Linked DNA regions of Homo sapiens. The protein of the gene in region 2 purifies or fractionates together with the protein of the main gene of each other region. This does not show direct contact. Each region holds a gene or a part of one and is shown on either strand. Other genes may lie near its edges.

Evidence for each region.
Region 1: the proteins of SLC9C1 (region 2) and UBAC2 purify together in Homo sapiens (affinity purification with mass spectrometry; one large-scale study listed by BioGRID and IntAct). This does not show direct contact.
Region 3: the proteins of SLC9C1 (region 2) and TMEM201 purify together in Homo sapiens (affinity purification with mass spectrometry; one large-scale study listed by BioGRID and IntAct). This does not show direct contact.
Region 4: the proteins of SLC9C1 (region 2) and HERC3 purify together in Homo sapiens (affinity purification with mass spectrometry; one large-scale study listed by BioGRID and IntAct). This does not show direct contact.

What each region holds. Positions count from the first base shown.
Region 1 is NC_000013.11:99,198,651-99,203,653, forward strand, and holds the start of UBAC2 (ubiquitin-associated domain-containing protein 2 isoform 1 precursor), read left to right. Parts: upstream 1-2,203; 5' UTR 2,204-2,258; coding exon 2,259-2,289; exon of another isoform or gene 2,290-2,761; coding exon of another isoform or gene 2,762-2,917; intron 2,918-5,003. UniProt on the Homo sapiens protein: Restricts trafficking of FAF2 from the endoplasmic reticulum to lipid droplets.
Region 2 is NC_000003.12:112,286,934-112,292,090, reverse strand, and holds part of SLC9C1 (solute carrier family 9 member C1), read left to right. Parts: intron 1-5,157. UniProt on the Homo sapiens protein: Sperm-specific solute carrier involved in intracellular pH regulation of spermatozoa. Required for sperm motility and fertility.
Region 3 is NC_000001.11:9,608,583-9,612,910, forward strand, and holds part of TMEM201 (transmembrane protein 201), read left to right. Parts: intron 1-1,257; coding exon 1,258-1,329; intron 1,330-1,923; coding exon 1,924-2,223; intron 2,224-2,432; coding exon of another isoform or gene 2,433-2,491; intron 2,492-2,636; coding exon of another isoform or gene 2,637-2,758; intron 2,759-3,170; coding exon 3,171-3,308; intron 3,309-4,328. UniProt on the Homo sapiens protein: Critical regulator of angiogenesis and endothelial cell (EC) migration. Promotes the migration of endothelial cells, which is essential for angiogenesis.
Region 4 is NC_000004.12:88,594,652-88,598,979, forward strand, and holds part of HERC3 (probable E3 ubiquitin-protein ligase HERC3), read left to right. Parts: intron 1-905; 5' UTR 906-963; intron 964-3,298; exon of another isoform or gene 3,299-3,436; intron 3,437-4,328. UniProt on the Homo sapiens protein: E3 ubiquitin-protein ligase which accepts ubiquitin from an E2 ubiquitin-conjugating enzyme in the form of a thioester and then directly transfers the ubiquitin to targeted substrates.

The DNA of each region.
Region 1 (5,003 bases), on a different chromosome or scaffold from region 2:
TGATACTATACGATAACTTAGCAAGTGGTAGTTTCTTAAAGGTTAATTGCAGTGAGGAATCTGAAACCATATGAATGAACATTTTGGACTGTTACACTAAAGTTTACTGGTGTATTTTATGGTTCAAATTAATCTTTTACCCACATAAGATTTCATAACATTATGCATCGGTCAACTGGAAAATCCAGTTATGTAGCTCTGTACAGTGGAAAATCCAGTTACGTAGCTCTGTACAGTTGTCCAATTGTACAATGGAAAACTCCACTATATACTTGAGAGAGTAGAAAATAAAACTAATGTCTTAGCATTATTATGAAAATAGTTTTGGACTTTGCATCCCCTTAATGGGTCAGGGTGTAGTCCATCAACAGCTTCTGCAAACATAAAGGACCTTTTGACTGTCGTTTTCCTGAAAAATAACTCGAACGAACCTAAAGGTAAATGTAAAATGTACTTCAAGACTGTGAAAATGGGCTGGGCCCAGAGGCTCACGCCTGTAATCCCAACACTTTGGGAGGCCAAGGCGGGCGGATCACGAGGTCAGGAGTTCGAGACCAGCCTGACCAACATGGTGAAACCTCATCTCTACTAAAAATACAAAAAATAGCCAGGGTGGTGTCAGGTGCCTGTAGTCCCAGCTACTTGGGAGGCTGAGGCAGGAGAATCGCTTGAACCGGGGAGGCAGAGGTATCAGTGAGCCGAGATCGCGCCACTGCACTCCAGCTGGGGAGAGCGAGACTCCGTCTCAAAACAAACGAACAAAACAAGACTGTGAAAATGAACTTTACGAATAAAGCCTAAAGAAGCAAATAAAAGTCATACTTTTGCCTTCTATAATCAGTGTTAACATTTTGGCCCACTGGAACCTCTCTTTGAGGGTAGGGACTGTGTTGATCTACGAATCACAGATTTAGCACACTGGCTGGCACTTATGAGCACTGAAAATGCTTTTTTTTTTTTAGTACTCCATAGCCTATCCCTTTCATTTAGCTGGGTAGTGTGGTCAATTTTCCCCATAACATGCGTTCTCACATAATTGCATGTATTTCTGGGGTACAGTGTGATGGTTCCATACATATACACATTGTGCAACCATCTAATCAGGGTAATTAGCACATCCATCACCAAAACACTTGTCATTTCTTTGTGGTGAGAATATTCAAAATCCTCTCTTCTAGCTATTTTGAAGTTAACATTATCGTTGAGTATAGTCATCCAAACGTGCAAGAGAATACCAAAACTTATTCCTTCTAACTATAACTTTGTGTCTGTTGACCAACCTCTCCCCATCTTCCTCCCCACTAACTCTCCTCTGTACAAGAATAACCACTCTTTTACTCCCTACTTTCACGAGATCAACTTAAAAAAAAACTTTTTAAAACGACTGCATGATATGTTTTCAGGCTCACACATTTAAAAACCGTGACTTTGGCAAAGAGTAACTTCATTCTGCTGGGGAAAAAAATTTAAATGGCCTGAGTCCGGAAGCTCGCCAGGGCAGAAGCGCAGGGTCGCTCCGCCGGGCTCGCCGGGCCGGGGACCCCCCAGCCACCCGCCACCACGGCGGGGAGGGCAGGGTGCTGACTCCAGGGACCACGACAGTCGGCCCCGGTGGTGGGGATTCCGCGCGGGACCCACGCGGGAACAAAGAGGCGGCTGGACGGCCCAGCTCTCCGCACCCGGAAGGACCTGTTCCACCTCTCCGGCTCCCGTACCCCTCTATCCGCATCTGAGTGACCAGATCCCACTGCAGTCAACAGCCCGCGGGGTAGCCAGCTTCGAGGGACCGCCCGGAAAGACACAACGCGCGTGGAAGGCGCCGGGCGTCCAGTCTCGGGAGAGATTAGAAGTGGCGCTCCTGCCCAGCGCCGGCAATCCAGGGGAATCCGCGGCCATCGCGGATCCACCAGGGGTGAGGCGGCACTGAGCACAAGTGTGAGGCTCTCGGGAGCTACGCCTCCGCTTCCCCAGTGCCACCCGTTTTTACCTCAGGCGGTTCTGACCGCCATCGTTTCAACCTGGAGAGGTGAGCCCTCCCCTACCGACGCACTTCCCTTCCCCGGCAGGAAGGAGGGCGCTGACCCAGCGGGCGCACGCCCCTGACTGCGCATGCGCCGGGTGCGCCGTTCGTCAGCGGCGAGTGGCCTCGCGGCGCCGGATTCGTCGCTCCGCCAAGAGTGCGCCTGCGCGGTCGCTGGGGCTCGCACTTCAGCTTCCCCTCCCCCGGCGCCCTCTGGGGCTCCGAGCCCGGCGGGACCATGTTCACCAGCACCGGCTCCAGTGGGCTCTGTGAGTACCGGCCTCCGCCATCCTGGCTGCCCCCTACACGCCACCCTAGGCACCTCTTTGAGGAGGCTGGGGCAGCGGGGACCCTCGGGTTTGCCGGAGGTGGTGGGGCCGACCCTCCAGACCCGCGTCCGAACCCTGCTAGTTCCCGGTCTTGGGGGTCAGCGGAAACCGCCCCCATTTCGGCCTGGAGGGGCGAATGGGGACAAAGCCCCGCCGCCCGCCCCGACCCCACCTGGTATCCCCAGGTGCTCTGCCCAGGAGTCTCTTGGGGCCGCTGCAAGTGGGCAGGTGCCCTGGTGTTCTCGTGGGCCGGCCCCAGGCCCTTTGCGGAGCGTGTGCCGCGCTGAAGGAAGGGGCCGTCCCCCTTACCATGCCCCATTCTTTTAGGCTTGGGGGACCGAACTAACTCCCCCCGCCCCCACTTGCAAAGTTCAGCCTCCGCTTTAGAAGCTGACCTCTCAGTTTCACTTGGATGTGTTTCTTCTTCAGTCTCCAAGAAGAGTTTTTAGACAAACACACACTGATGAGAGTGCTTTCAAGTGGAGGGAAGTTAGGAAGTCGTGGCGAGGGAGCGCAGCTGTGCTGCTGGATGTTGCTGTTTTCCTGGCGTGTTAGCGGTGGTCAGCAGGTAGGGGGCGGAGTATTTTTACAGCCAGTTAAACGGCTTTTCTCACTGAGTGTGTGGAATTGACTTTCGGTAAGGTAGACTGCGTGTTAACAGTTAGGCACGGGTACAGCAACGGAGAACAGCTCTAATTTTGCAATTGCTTGTCACTGTTCATACTCCATGTGAAGTTAATGCTGCTGGAGGACAGAAACATCTGACATTTCCAAATATTAAAGATCTGTTGGCCGGGCGCGGTGGCTCACGCCTGTAATCCCAGCACTTTGGGAGGCCGAGGTGGGCGGATCACGAGGTCAGGAGATCGAGACCATCCTGGCTAACACGGTGAAACCCCGTCTCTCTACTAAAAACACAAAAAATTAGCTGGGCGTGGTGGCGGGTGCCTGTATTCCCAGCTACTCGGGAGGCTGAGGCAGGAGAATGGCGTGAACCCGGGAGGCGGAGCTTGCAGCGAGCCGAGATTGCGCCACTGCACTTTGGCCTGGGCGACAAAGCGAGACTCCATCTCAAAAAAAAAAAAAAAAAAAAAAGATCTGTTGGGAATGTCATGAATCTTCTGAGAATGTGTGTCTCGTCTTATAGTCTGACAGTGAGTTAGTATCAGCGCCACAGGCATAATTTTAAATCTTCCTCACTTCTCAACTTCTCAGGTTTTGAAGTGGTTTCAATATTTATGATTTCCTTTGTTTCATAATTAATTTGATTTATGGCATCTTTCATGGATTGGTCCCGGAGTATGTTACAACTACTAAGTAATCTTCCCCAAACTACCCTTTAGATAAAGAGCATTAGGACTGTAGCTGAAGCTGACAGTTCAAGAAGGCAATGTGGTTTTCCTGGGATCACACAGTGAGCCAGGAACTACTGGTTATGAAATTAATGGTGGAATTCTTCAATTTCAATTGTTCTTTAGCATTTTGATCTATCCTTGCTGGCCAAAGTACATATAAAAAAATAAAGGGCAAGAGAAATCTTATTGGTTGCTGTACTGTATTAGCCATGAGATTATATTGGCCAAGTGTATTCAAATTTGATACAGGGCAACTGTGGGGAAGATAATATTTTGTTATCTATGGCACATGGTGGTGAGTGTTGAATTCTAGGAACCAAACTGTTGCCCAGGGAGAGGCGTAGGTCTGGAGCCCCTCTGCAGCTGTCTTGGCCTGTTTCTAAAATTAAGTGCTTCTGCAGTGTAAGAGTTGTTGGGATGGCCGTTCCTCAGAAGGCTGTGTCTTACATGCTCATTTTACAAACATTTTGGGCATCTCCTCTGGGCGATGAACTGGGCTAGGTGCTGGGAATGCAGCAACGAACAGGTCCTGGTCTCAGTGCTTACAGTGCTGACGGAGCTTAGGCACAGTTTTCCAGGACTGGTCATTAGAAAAGGCTGTGTGTCAGCTTTAACATTTTTCTCTGGAGAAGCTACCCACTGAGGGAGAAGTGATTTCCTTTGTTTTATTTTATTTATTTATTTATTTATTTATTTATTTATTGAGATGGAGTCTCACTGTTGCCCAGGCTGGAGTGCAGTGGTGGATCTCCGCTCACTGCAACCTCCGCCTCCCGAGTTCAAGCGATTCTCCCGCCTCAGCCTCCCAAGTAGCTGGGATTACAGGTGCCCACCATCACACCTGGCTATTTTTGTATTTTTAGTAGAGACGGGGTTTTGCCATGTTGACCAGGCTGGTCTTGAGCTCCTGACCTCAAGTGGTCCTCCCGCCTCGGCCTCCAAAAGTGCTGGGATTACAGGCGTGAGCCACTGCCTATGATTTCCTTTAGATAAGTTGAGGGACCCTTTAGCAAATCAAAATTCTGATCCTGAGCAAGAATCTGAAAGAAGGACGACACGTGTACCTAGCCCTACCCCCATGGGTGGTGAATAACAGTCCCTTTCCAGGGATAAATCCCTGCCATTTTCTACCACCTGCATGTTTCCCACGTTTTGTGGTTAGTAGATAATAGTATTTTAGTGTTAAACTTGCCTTTCTCTCTCATCCATTCAATAAGTGTCTGTTGGGTACCCATATCAGCCACACACTGTTGATATACAGAGGATAAAGTAATAAGCAGGATCAAGGAGACCAGCATC
Region 2 (5,157 bases):
CCTCTATGTGTCCACGTGTTCTGAATATTTAGCTTCCACTTATAAGTGAGAACATGCAGTATTTGGTTTTCTGTTCCTGCATTAGTTTGCTAAGAATAGTGGCTTCCAGCTCCATCCATGTTCCTACAAAGGACATGATCTCATTCTTTTTTATGGCTGCATAGTATTTCATGGTGTATATGTGCCACATTTAGTTTATCTAGTCTACCATTGATGGGCATTTGGGTTGATTCTATGACTTTGCTTTTGTGAACAGTACTGCAATGAATGTACGCATGCATATGTCTTTATGATAGAACAGTTTACATTTCTTTGTGTTTATACCCCGTAATGGGATTGCTGGGTCAAATGTTAGATCTGTTTTTAGGTCTTTGAGGAATCACCACACTGTTTTCCACAGTGGTTGAACTAATTTACATTCCCACCAACAGTGTATAAGCATTCCTTTTTCTCCACAACCTTGTCAGCATCTGTTATTTTTTGACTTTTTAATAGGAGCCATTTTGACTGGTGTGAAATGGTACCTTCCTTGTGGTTTTGATTTGCATTTCTCTAATGATCAGTGATGTTAAGCTTTTTTTTTCATATGCTTGTTGGCAGCATGTATGTCTTCTTTTTAGAAGTGTCTTGTCCTTTGCCTACTTTTTAATGGGGCTGGTTGTTTTTTCTTGTAGATTATTTTAAGTTCCTTATAGATGCTGGATATTAGACCTTTGTCAGAAGCATAGTTTGCAAAAATTTTCTCCCATTCTGTAGGTTATCTGTTTACTTTGTTGATAGTTTCTTTTGCGTGCAGTAGCTCTTTAGTTTAATTAGATCCCATTTGTTAATTTTTGCTTTTGTTGTGATTGCTTTTGATGTCTTTGTCGTGAAACCTTAGCCCACTCCTATGTCAAGAATGATGTTGCCATTACCAGCCACTACAAAAACACACTTAAGTACACAGACCAGTGACACTGTAAAGCAAGCACACAGTCAAGTCTGCATAATCACCAGCTAACATCATGCTGACAAGATCAAATCCACATGTATCAATACTAACCTCGAAAGTAAATGGGCTAACTGCCCCAATTAAAAGGCACAGAGTGTCAGGATGAATAAAGAACCCAGACCCTATGGTATGCTGTCTTCAAGACACCCATCTCACATGCAAGATCGAAAGAAATGGATGGAGAAAAACTACCAAGCCAATGTAAAACAGAAAAAAGCAAGGGTTGCAATCCTGATTTCAGACAAAACAGACTTTAAGCCAACAAAGATCAAAAAAAAAAAAAAAGAAGGAAAAGAAGGTAATAACATAATGGTAAAGGGTTCAATTTAACAATACCTAACTAAATATATATCCACTCAACACAGGAGCACCCAGATTCATAAAGCAAGTTCTTAGAGACTTTCAAAGAGACTGACACTCCCACATAATAATAGTGGGAGACTTCAACATCCCACTGACAGTTTTAGACAGATCATCAAGGCAGAAAATTAACAAACATATTCAGGACCTAAACTCAGCAGGCTCAAATGAACCTGTAGACTTCTACAGACCTCTTCACCCAAAAACAAAAGAGTATACATTCTTCTCATTGCCACGTGACACATACTCTAAAATCAACCATACGGTCAAACAAAGAACACTTGTCAGCAAATGCAAAAGAACTGAAATCACAATAACCACTCTCTCAGACCACAGCACAATTTTATTATTTTCTGAAAAAAAAATTTATTATAATTGAATGTGTAAACACTTATTACAATTTTTAAATAATTTTAGAAATGATAAAAATGCTCATGGGAACATGTATTCTTAGTTTGGAAAACAATAGACTTCTTAACTATATTAAATTCAGAAAGCATGTAGGAATGTGTAACTGTGGTACAGAAAATAATTTTCCTTATTTCGTCTAGCCTGTATACTCGAGGATGCTTAGTCTTGGCATAAGAGTGGGCAAGTTAAGAGGTGACATTGACAATATTTTTCTCAATAGTTTGATGTTAAGAGCAAATATTACTAATTGACCAAAATGTTCTTTCCTAATGGCAGGGGCTTCCCCTGGAGCAGTGTTTCTAAACACCAGTTGCTCATTAGAATCACTGGAAAGCTTTTAGAGTTCCCAGTACTCAAGCTGCACCCCAGAAGAATTAAATTAACCTTGGAGGGTGGGCACCAAGGCATCAGTATTTTCTAAAACTTGCCACGTGATTCCATGTGTGGCCAAGGTTGAGAATGTCTGTTAAGAGACATAGCTGAGCTCACTCTTCTCTGTCACTTATATTACATTCGAGATCTTCAGGTCTACCTACAGTTCTTGATATGTTTAGGTAACATTAAAAAATTTAGAAATCCTTTGAGGAAAAGAACCAAACACAAAACCCAAAACAACCCCCAAATCCAGGAAGTGATCTAATACTCAGAGATAGGACTCAGTATGTTGCTCCAGGCTGGCCTTAGGCTCACAGCTGCGCCAATGTTGTTCTCCTCTTTGACATAAATGATCCCACAGAACATCAACATCAGACAAAGTCACTTCAAACCTTAGCAAAATGAGACACAAAGGTTGTTGTGCAACCTATACAACACCAAACACCCTCAGTCTCAGCTAAAATGAGTGACTGCTGCTTCTGTGCCCATCACAGCTGTATCTTAGCTCTAGTCTACCCTCCTTATAGTAAAGTTTTATTGAATACTCAATCACGGAATTGTCCTCACTTTCTGACAGCACCTTACCTAAAGTGAACCCTCACTTCCATAGACCTTTTCCAAAATTACCCAGACAAAGCGCAGATCCTCTAATAGGTTATTTCTAACACTCTTTTGCTGATATACCCCATGGTTTCCCATGGTGAGTCATCTCCTTCACCGCAACAAATAAATAACAAACAAAACTTGTTAACTACAGATGTATTTCTGGTAACATTTGGCTGAAGGGCATTGACAGCCTTTCTCACAAAACCTCACCAAGAATATTGAAAAGAAGCTGGCTTTGAGACTAAAAATTGAGCAATGTTGTCTGAATTGAGCGGATCACAGTGGTTGCTAACCTTGGCTGGGTTAAATTAAAATTACCTGAAGAGCCCAGGCTGCAAACCAGACTGAATTAAATCAGAATCTCTGGAGATAGGACGTAGGCACCAAGTATCATTATAGCTCCTTAGGTAATTCCAAAAAATAATAAATAAAGGGAGAGAAATTACACAGACTAGAAAATTATACAGATTTGAAAACTGAGGCCAGTGGTGTTAAAGTAAGCTACCCTGAGTCTTTCAACCTACAAGCAGAAGCCCATCAGACCTACGAATGCAAGTAGTCTGACCGCAGATTCTGAAATTTGTTTTAGAGACAAGGTATCACTCTGTCACCCCGGTTGGAATGCAGTGTCACGATCATAGTTCACTGCAGCCTTGAATGCCTGGGCTCAAAACAATGTCCCACCACCCCCTCAGCCTCCTGAGTAGCTAGGACCATAGGCGAGCACCACACTGAGGTAAGTTTTTTATTTTTTGTAGCAATGGAGGCTTGCTATGTTGCCCAGCCTGGTCTTGAATTCCTGGCCTCAAGGGATCCTCCCATCTTGGCCTCCCAAAATGTTGGGATTATAGGCATGGGCCAGTATGCCAGCCAGAGTATGCACTTTTACCTTGGTGGTAATATGTTACAAGCTTTGTGAATGTTATCTATAAGGCTTTTGATGCTGGTGATACAATAATAAGAGGAAAACAGCACAAAATTTAATCGTAAAAGGATGAGCCCAACAATGCAAATAAAACCTGTAAGAGCCACTAGATGATATGATTTTGGGTCATTTCTCTTCTGCTTTTGAAATACTTGTTTACATATTTATTTCAAGAAGTGTTCACAATAAACATGTATTTATTTTCCCCTTCAAAATATTGTTTTATAATAAAAAGGAAGACATAAGAAAACATATATATATCATATGTATATATGATGTGTGTGTGTGCGTGTGTGTATGAAACTGAAAAAAAAATTTGCCAGGTTATGAGAGGAATTGTAATTTCTTTTCCTTTTCCTTTTTTTTTTTTTTTTTTTTTTGAGACGGAGTCTTGCTCTGTGGCCCAAGCTGGAGTGCAGTGGCACGATCTCGGCTCACTGCAAGCTCCGCCTCCCCGGTTCACGCCATTTTCCTGCCTCAGCCTCCCGAGTAGCTAGGACTACAGGCGCCCGCCACCATGCCCGGCTAATTTTTTGTATTTTTAGTAGAGACCGGGTTTCACCATACCAGGATGGTCTCAATCTCCTGACCTCGTGACCCACCCGCCTCGGCCTCCCAAAGTATTGGGATTACAGGCGTGAGCCACCGTGCCCGGCCAGGAATTATAATTTCTTAGTAAGGCAGCCATATGAGATGCTGATAGAAGGCACTAAAAAATGTCAAGCTACCATTATGAGAGATAGAATCATAATATCCTGTGTGAAATGTAAGACCTTTGATGTAAAACTTTCCTTTCCATGGGAAGCAGGCGAGATTGCCTGACTGTGGTTAACTGTCTATTGTTTCAAACTCTTATCAAGGCCCCTCTTGTTCCTCTTCCAAGAAGTAACAAAGAAATAGAACATGTAACAATTTCCCTGATTTAAGAAAGTTTTTTGGTTTTAATATTTTTCTTACATTCTTGGTTGCTATATACACATATAAATTTAGAGAACACCTGGTCTGTCAGTGTCCCAAATGAGATCAAAGAAGGCTGTGATTGGATATCATCATGATTTATTAATTTCTGTCTGGATAAAACAACAAAAGAGATCCAAATATTCTTCCCTGCTTTTCCTCCTACTTTGGAATAGCTGTCAGAACATGCTTGCAGAGGCTTAGATAATCTGAGGACAAAACCCTTTGTTGTCCTTCCACAGAGCTAAGTAACCTGCACCAGCTTGTGGTTCCAATGACCACATTGGTGAGTGTGAATAGTTAGATGGAGAATCCTTCTTTCAGACAGTTGGATGGATTCAGAGTGGGTAACAAGTGCGTAGTGCTTGGCATTGTAAGTAAACATAAGGTAACACTGGTAGTCTCTATCACTTGGGGTTCTGACTTTTTTATTACATTAACTTGAAAGCATCATAGAAGGGAGAGGCATCCCTAAATTTGGCAGACCACGAGAAATCACTAGAAATAATTAAAGGAGAATAGGGCTTTTTTT
Region 3 (4,328 bases), on a different chromosome or scaffold from region 2:
GAACTTGGGGTGGGAGGTGCCAGGAGCAGCCCTGCCCTGGGCCTGAGCACTCCGAGTAAACTCTGTGCGCACTGACCAAGGTGGCAGAGCTCAGGGACTTCTGTTTCAAGCCCCTTGGGAGGGGAGCGTGGCAATCCCAGGGCCAGTTCAGGCCTCCAAGGCAGGGGCTCCTGCCCACAGAGAAGAACAGGCAATCTCCCTGTTAAGGCTCAAGGCAGGGACACAGTAGCGACCTGTCTGAGGTAGCAGCAGAGGTCTTGGGGCGCAAGCTTGTCTTGGAGTGTCCGGTGACAGATGGGACCCCAGTCTCCATTACCAGAGTGGGTCGGGGGGAGGAGCCCGGTCTCCATCGCCAGAGGGTGGGTCGGGGGCAGGAGTTCCTGCAGGGCTTTGGCTCATGTATTCAGAGACGCGCTGGACCGGGCTCAGGTGCTGTGGCCAGAATCCAGCTTGCTGTCTCCCTGTCTGTCCTCAGTCCGCTTCTCTGCCACACACCTCATCCCTGTGTCCTGCAGCCCATGCCCAGCAGGAAGACGGCCTCTCCCAGCATCCATAGAATGGATTCTAGAAGGACCCTGGTTGGCATGCTGGGTCCTTGTGACCACCCTTATCCAGCCTATCCCCTGGCCTGGTGAGGGGAGGGTTATCTGCATGCTGCAACAGACCCTTCAGAGCCCACAGGTGGCAACAGGACATGAGGCAGTCCCTGGGTCCCACATTCAGCTCTCAGCCAGCCACTTGGAATTGGGGCCCCTGCCCTTGGGGTGCGTGCGCCTGATTTAGGAAAAGGCAGCGTGGTTGGTGATCCCTGGGATCGAGAGAACAGGCAGTTGGGGTCTGCAATTAGTGGAGAAAGTGGGACTAGATGGCTGGAAAAGCAGGCCCTTCTGTGGGAAGAAGGGCATGGAACGAGGAGTGGACAATATGCCCAGTGCCGACTCTTCTCACCACCTGCTGTGAGCCTCAAGTTTCTTCCTGACCTCGTGATCTGATCTGCCTACCTCAGCCTCCCAAAGTGCTGGGATTACAGGCATGAGCCACTGCGCCCAGCCCAAGCCTCAGTTTCTTTATCTGCAAAAAGGGAACGTGCCCAGCAGCCCTCAGACAGCAGTCCGAGGAATCCGTGAGCACCTGTGTTTCCATGAAAGCACATTTGTAAAGAGCAAAGGCTGGATTGGGATTTCGGCAGAGCATTTGTGGGGGCCTCTGCACGTCATCCACAGGCCTGACGTGTCGCCCGCTTCTCTCTGTCTCCAGACTCCGGCTATCTGTTCAGCGGTAGCCGCCCACCATCTCAGGTGTCTCGATCTGGGGAGTTTCCTGTTTCAGGTGAGGAAGACAGAGAGCTAAGTGGGGGACGGGGCAACATGAAGCCCGGGCGTTCCAGAGCATGGTGGTTTGTGTGAGCTTTGGGGTCAGACAGACCCCAAGTGTGTGTTCACATCTCAGCCCTGGGCAAGTGACCTACACACCTGTGCCTCAGTTTCCTCTTGCGTGAAATGGGAATGACAGTCTCTAGGATCAGATGGTACCATGCTGCTCTGCCGTCCTCAGTGGCAGTCACGGCTGGAACTGGTGCACCAGGTGCCAGCTGGCAGCAAGGCCTCGGGTGAGCTGGCCTTGTACCTCCAGGGTTTGCTGCTATCTGGCCTTGCTCTCAGCTGATGGTACCCAGGGCTTTGGATGGAAATCAAGGGCAGAAGGCCATGGCTGAGGCTCCGGGATCTCTCCTCTCCCTCAGGTGCCTGGTAGAGGGCACCTCTCCTCCTTCAGCTTTGCAGCAGGACTTCCCCCTGTCCCCAGTCTCTGCACCTTTCCTGTCTTCCCGGGTTAATAGAAGAATGCCCCCAGAAATGAAATAGCGCATTGTAGCGTTGCAGTGACAGGAGCCCACGTTCACATCATCTTCCTCCCTCCCTCCAGATTACTTCTCTCTTCTGTCGGGGAGCTGCCCCTCCTCCCCACTCCCTTCCCCAGCGCCTTCCGTGGCCGGCTCGGTGGCCTCCAGCTCCGGCTCTCTGCGCCACCGCAGGCCCCTCATCAGCCCTGCCCGGCTCAACCTGAAGGGACAGAAGCTGCTGCTGTTCCCGTCACCCCCTGGAGAGGCCCCCACCACGCCCAGCAGCTCCGATGAGCACTCGCCTCACAACGGCAGCCTCTTCACCATGGAGCCGCCCCATGTTCCCCGGAAGCCGCCCCTGCAGGACGTGAAGCACGCCCTGGGTACGGCCTTCTGACCACCCCAAGGGGCCGTGGGAGGGCCTCTGCTGCCAAGAGGCCTGGCTGTGCGGCGGTGGGGGGGCTCATCCTTGCTCTGACTCCGGTGTGCGCCTTCCCACCCTGGAGCTCTAGGCACCCCATTCCGGCTCTGGTGACTTGAACCCTCTGGGACATTGACCTCTAATGGCTGATTTCAGTTTCTCCTTTTGCAGTTGACCTTCAGGGTCCTCTGTTTCTTGGAACTGATCGAAAACACATCACGCATTGCCAGGTGCGTGTGGCCACAGATAGTTTCACTCAAATGGTGCTGTACTGCAAAGCATTTAAAATGTTTATAGTTAGCCCCCAGCCTTTAAAACCTACAACTTTCAACTTTCACATGAATTTGTAGATTTCCTTTTTTTTTTTTTTTCGAGATGCAGTCTCACTCTGTCGCCCAGGCTGGAGTGCAGTGGCGTGATCTTGGCTCACTGCAACCTCCTCCTCCAGGGTTCAAGAGATTGTCCTGCTTCAGCCTCCCGAGTAGCTGGGACTACAGGTGCGCGCCACCATGCCTGGCTAATTTTTATATTTTTAGTAGAGACGGGATATCACCATGTTTCCCAGGCTGGTCTTGAACTCCTGATCTCAAGTGACCCACCCATCTTGGCTTCCCAAAGTGCTGGGATCACAGGCGTGGGCCACTGCGCCCGGCCTCGAATGTTTAGATTTCCCACGTCTCTTTCAATGTCAGAGATCTGGTCACCTTGGGCCTGAATACTGGCAGACAAGAGGTGGCAGGACAGTTGAGCAAGGACCTGGCCCCCCACTGTCCAGGGTGGATGAGTGGCTTGGGACAGCCTGGCTCACCACTTCTGACAACTGTCCTTAGAGTGGAAGTACAGCTGCCCCGCGTCTGTCCCTGGAGGGAGCCATGAGCGCCACTGAGAAACACACCCTTCTCTCTGCAGACCTGAGATCCAAGCTGGAAAGAGGCAGTGCCTGCAGCAACCGCTCCATCAAGAAAGAGGACGACTCTTCCCAGTCATCTACCTGTGTGGTGGACACCACCACCAGGGGCTGCTCGGAGGAGGCCGCCACCTGGAGAGGTCTGTACCCTGAGGTGCGGGAGGGGAGGGGGTGGGCACACATCCGAAGCCACCATCTCCCCCAGGGGGGTCCAGAGCACTGACAGAAAGAATCTTCCAGGACATTGCAGTCCCTGAGTGGCCGACAAGTAACCCACCCGGCGCCTCTGAATCCAGGGTCAGGGACTCAGTAGACGGCACTCCCCCTCTCGGGATTTGGGCCCCGATCTGCACTATTCCAGTAGCTTCTGGCCCCAGGCAGCTATTTAAATTAACTGAATTAAAATTAAATAAAGTTTGAAATGTAGTTCTTGAGCTGCACTAGCCACATTTCAAGTGCTCAGTAGGCACCTGTGGCCCGTGGCTGGCATTTAGGACACATACCGAAGGCTGCCATCCTGGCCGGAAGTGCCCAGAGAGCCTGGGTGCACCGGGACCACGTCACGCTGGGGCTGCAGCCTGCACCGGGTGCCGAGCTGCCTGGCTCAGATCCCAGGTTCTCTGCTCACTAACCCTGGGGCTCAGGGGCAAGAGACCAGATCTGTGGTACACATCATCACTCCCTGGGTGGGGAGGAGGGGGTGTGTGTTGAGGGAGATGGACAGATCAGCAAGCAGGGCTTTTCCTGGGCAGGTCATTTTGCACTGACTCTCAAAGCCAGTGCTGCCCCAGGCTGGAGGGTGGCCCAGCAGCTTGGAGGCCTTGGTGAGAACGCAGGCTGCGGCATGCAGCAGGTGGACCTGGGTTGGCTGCTTATTCCCTTGGAGGCCTGGATGGGGTGCTCCTGTTCCCAGCCCCCATGACCTCATCTGTAAAGTGGCCATTGTGGTCACTGCCTCATCACCCAGGCCCCAGCTCATGACAGCCCAGCCCATGGCCTTCCTGGCGGCTCAGGGTTAGGAAAAGCTGTGCCTTCAGGGAGGCAGGGAGTGGGGGTCTTTCCTGCTAGGGAAGCCTTTGGCCAAGAGAAGAATTGGGGGTGAGCCTCACCAGTCTCAGAGAGTACCCTGGGCAGAGCCTTGAGCTCCCCACAAACTGCAT
Region 4 (4,328 bases), on a different chromosome or scaffold from region 2:
AGGCTGTCCACCCGCCTGGGCCTCCTAAAGTGCTTGACAAAAATATCTTAAAATCATGGAGGACTTTTTCTTTTGAGATACTTTAGGTATCTCTCTGAGATGATCTCTTCTCATTTTGCATGATGGAGGATGTGGTAATGAAAAGGGAAAGACCGGGTGCAGTGACTGGCTGGGCGCAGTGGCTCACACCTGTAATCCCAGCACTTTGGGCGGCTTGAGACGGGTGGATCACTTGAGGTCAGGAGTTGGAGACCAGCCTGACCAACATGGTGAAACCCCTTCTCTACTAAAAATAGAAAAATTAGCTGGGCGTGGTGGCGGGCGCCTGTAATTCCAGCTACTTGGGAGGCTGAGGCAGGAGAATCGCTTGAACCTGGGAGGCAGAGGTTGCAGTGAGCCGAGATCGGCCACTGCACTCCAGCCTGGGTGAAAGAGCCAGACTCTGTCTCAAAAAAAAAAAAAAAAAAAAAAAGAAAAGGAATGAAAGGAGACAGTCTTCATAACAGTTGTGGCAAAACAAGCTGCTATGTGTCATACATGGAAAAATAAAGAAAATAGACAAAATTTAATTATTTTCCAAAATTTTCTCTAACAAAAATGGGAGATTTTAAAGTAATTCCATTTTTACTACTCCCTATCAAATGTCAGGAATTTTTATAAGGTGATATCTATATCTCTAGTTCACTTTTAGAGGTGATTGATGTCTTTATAACTGGTTAGAGGTTATCTTACTGGTATTTAACCAAACTCCTGTCTTGAGATACAATGCGTGGGGAATATTCAAGATTGAGTAATTTAAAGATATTCTTATTTTCAGAGGTTAACTCCTGTCTTTTTGTTTACAGTAACATGAAGACACAACAGAGTTCCATACTAATGTTATTTATTATTTCTTTAACTTGCAGAACTGCAAGGTGTGGAATATTTCTGGCTTCTAGTCCAATGCCAAGTGTGTGACCTGTGGTGAGTTACTTAATTTTTCTGGACCTCAGTTTTTCATCTTGTAAATGGAGTCCTTTACATGCATTATCCTGTTTAATACTCTCATCAACTCAAGCTAGGGTAGCTACCTAGAGAGGGACCTAAACAAATCTCAGTGCCTTCCTGCTGCTCTAAGATAGTGAAGAGAACAAGGTGAGCCCAAGAAGTAGGAGACCTGGTTTCTGGTCTCTGCTTCAAGCACTTAATTCTTTTTTTTTTTTTTTTTTTTTTTTTTTGAGAGGGAGTCTGGCTGTCGCCCACGCTGGAGTGCAGTGGCGGGATCTCGGCTCACTGCAGGCTCCGCCCCCCGGGGTTCATGCCATTCTCCTGCCTCAGCCTCCCGAGTAGCTGGGACTACAGGTGCCCACCACCTCGCCCAGCTAATTTTTTGTATTTTTAGTAGAGACGGGGTTTCACTGTGTTAGCCAGGATGGTCTTGATCTCCTGACCTCGTGATCCGCCTGCCTCGGCCTTCCAAAGTGTTAGGATTACAGGCGTGAGCCACCGCGCCTGGCCAAGCACTTAATTCTTAGTGGACCAAAGTTACTTGGCCTCTGAAGGCCTTAGCTGCCATTAAAATGAATTTAGGAATGTAAGTCTTTTGCTTAGAGGTTAGATCAAATGGACTTTTAATAAGGTGGTAAATTTGATAATATAACTCTGTCCCCTTTAGACATTTACTCCATTTAGAAATAGTACTTGTTGGTGGCAGGGACATGTGTTTCTGTGTAAGTGAACTGGTTTTATTATTACTCAGGGTGGGGGATCTTTAACATTATCTGGAAAATAAAAGTGGTTACAAGTTGAGGTGGTGGAAATTCAGGTTTTCTAAGAATGGGGGTCAGTTCACTAGGCATTTATCAAGCCTCTGCTGTGCTCTTGTACTCTGCTGAGAATGGAAGGCACAAAGATGAGTAAAACCTGGTTCCTTCATGGAGAAACTCCCAGTCTGCACGTTGGCAGGGTGTTAGTGGAGGAGGTAGGAGAAGCAGCCATACTGCCTCAACAGCGCTTTGCATTTTTGTTTGTTTTGTGAAGTATTTGTAAGCATAAAATAATGCATGTCATATATGTTAAGAAACAACAATAAAAGGACAGAAGCAGAATATCAGCCATGCTATTGAAATGTCTCCCTTTGTGCTCCTTCCAGATTGTTCCCTCTATTCCTACTGCCTCCACAATCATTACCCGCTATTTTGTGTTTGTGATTTGCTTTTCTTCATAGCTTTGTTACCACTGATGATTCTTAATCTCCAAATAATATATTTGTTATAGTTGTGTTTGAATTTTGTAAAAATGCATCATACTCTGAATTCTTCTGTGACTCAACACTTTTTAAGATTTAGTTACAATGATGCTTATAGATGGAGTTTATTTTTTACTGCTGTACAGTGTTCTGTTTTATGCATGTGCCACACTATCTGTTTTCTTATTGATGGATATTTGTTTTTTGTTTTTTTCCTATTTCAAATAATGCTGGAATGAACATTCTTATACGTGTATCTTGGTGCATATGTTCATGAGTTTCTCACTGCATTGGACTGTAAGATAGCCACTAGTCACCTAGGGCTACTTACATTAAAATTTATTAAAATAAAATATTAACTATTTCAGTTCTTCACTTGTATTAGTCACATTTCAAGTACTCAATAGCCACATATACCTACTGGCTACCATAGTGGACAGTGCAAATATATAGCATTTCCATTATCACAGAAAGTTCCAAGTTTCCAGATTTTACTCATCTTTGTATCTCCATTTATTAGTATAGTACAGGAGCACCATAGATGCTTAATAAGTTGGATAATGCTGGTCATATGCCCAGCAGTGAAATTACTGTGTGGGGAGGTATCCACATCTTCATCTTCACTGGAGAATGCCAACTTGTTTTGCCAAGTGCTTATGCCAGTTTATATTCCCACCAGCTGTCTATGAGGGCCCTGGCTGTTGTATATCCTTGACTTGGTATTGTTAGACTTTTCAATTCTTGCCAGTCTCGTTGGTGTCTTTTGAAGGCAGTCCACAGCTTAAGCAGACTGCAGAGAAGTCATTCTTCCAGCTTCACAAAGCCTAGCACCAGGTAGTGAAGAAGGCACCACCTTAGAGGGGATGATCCGGGGAAGGGTAGGAGTGTTTCCTGTGTTGGCTGAGGGGGTCAGAGGACCAAAGTCCAGCTAAAGTGGAGGAGAGAGAAAACAGCAAGGAGTGGATTCACGTTGTTGAAAACTTCTCTTTGCCTTCTATGACATTTCTGTCTTTGGTAGGAACATTTTTGATAATAAGGCAAGTCATTAAAATGAATCTTCTTTGTTACCAGAGTTAATTCTGCATTTTAGTTTTGGCCCTACATTTATTTAAAGCCTGAATTTGGGGAGTATCTGCAAAGCACTGAAGGTTTTGGACATTGTCTTTTCCTGCTGTTGAAAGAGACCCTCTTCATATATACAACATTCAGGTAATTGCTTCTAAGCTTACTTGAAAGGAAGCTTATCCCTATTTTAAATGAGATTAGAAGTCCTGCCTGAGTGTTATTTTGGTCTCAGTGCCTTTCAAACAAAGGGATAAGAATGAGTTGTTAGGCTGCTGTGTGCATAGTCGCATAGTCTTATCATAAGACAAAGTTTAGGAACTGAAGGTTGTCGTTTAGCATTCAACTCACTAGAGCTAGTAAAAAGAGATTTATCTCCCCACCGCCCTCCACCCATGCCCTCTCCAGAATTTAAAAGCAAATGCACACAAAAAAACTTCCTCCTATCAACCTCAAATCCCTTTCATGAAAGTTATGGCAGATGGTTGTGATGCTACTTTGCTGTAGTGCAGATTTGGCAGAATGCAGCTAGTGCTAATTGCAGTGAGGAAGACAGGAGTCACAATCCCATCCTCTTTTGGGAATTGTCCTGTCTGCTGAAATCTCAAAGAAGAGCACTAGGAGTAGGAGTAACATTGACTAAAGCAGCTGACATTTACTGGTCACTTACTACTACATGCCAGGCACCATGCTAAGCCCTTTTTACATGCATTTTCTCATTAATCCTCACAACACTCTAGCACCTTCTCCTGATTTTGGAGCTTAAGGTGGGTAAACATCTTTCCTCAGGTTTCACAGCTAACGTGGTTAATGTAGGGCTTGGATTTTAGTTCCTTTGACCCTTAAGCTCTGCTAAGATTATCTTGAATCTCTTACCAAGAATAGATGAGAAGGACTCAGGAAAGTGCCAGGTTGACATTGAGAGAAAGTTGTACTTCAAAAGTAGTCCTTCCTTTTGTTTTGTCATGGGGAAATAAGAGGCAGGAAATGCAGCCAAGCGGGGCTGGTGTAGGTGCTGAGGGAAGTGTAGTCCTATATT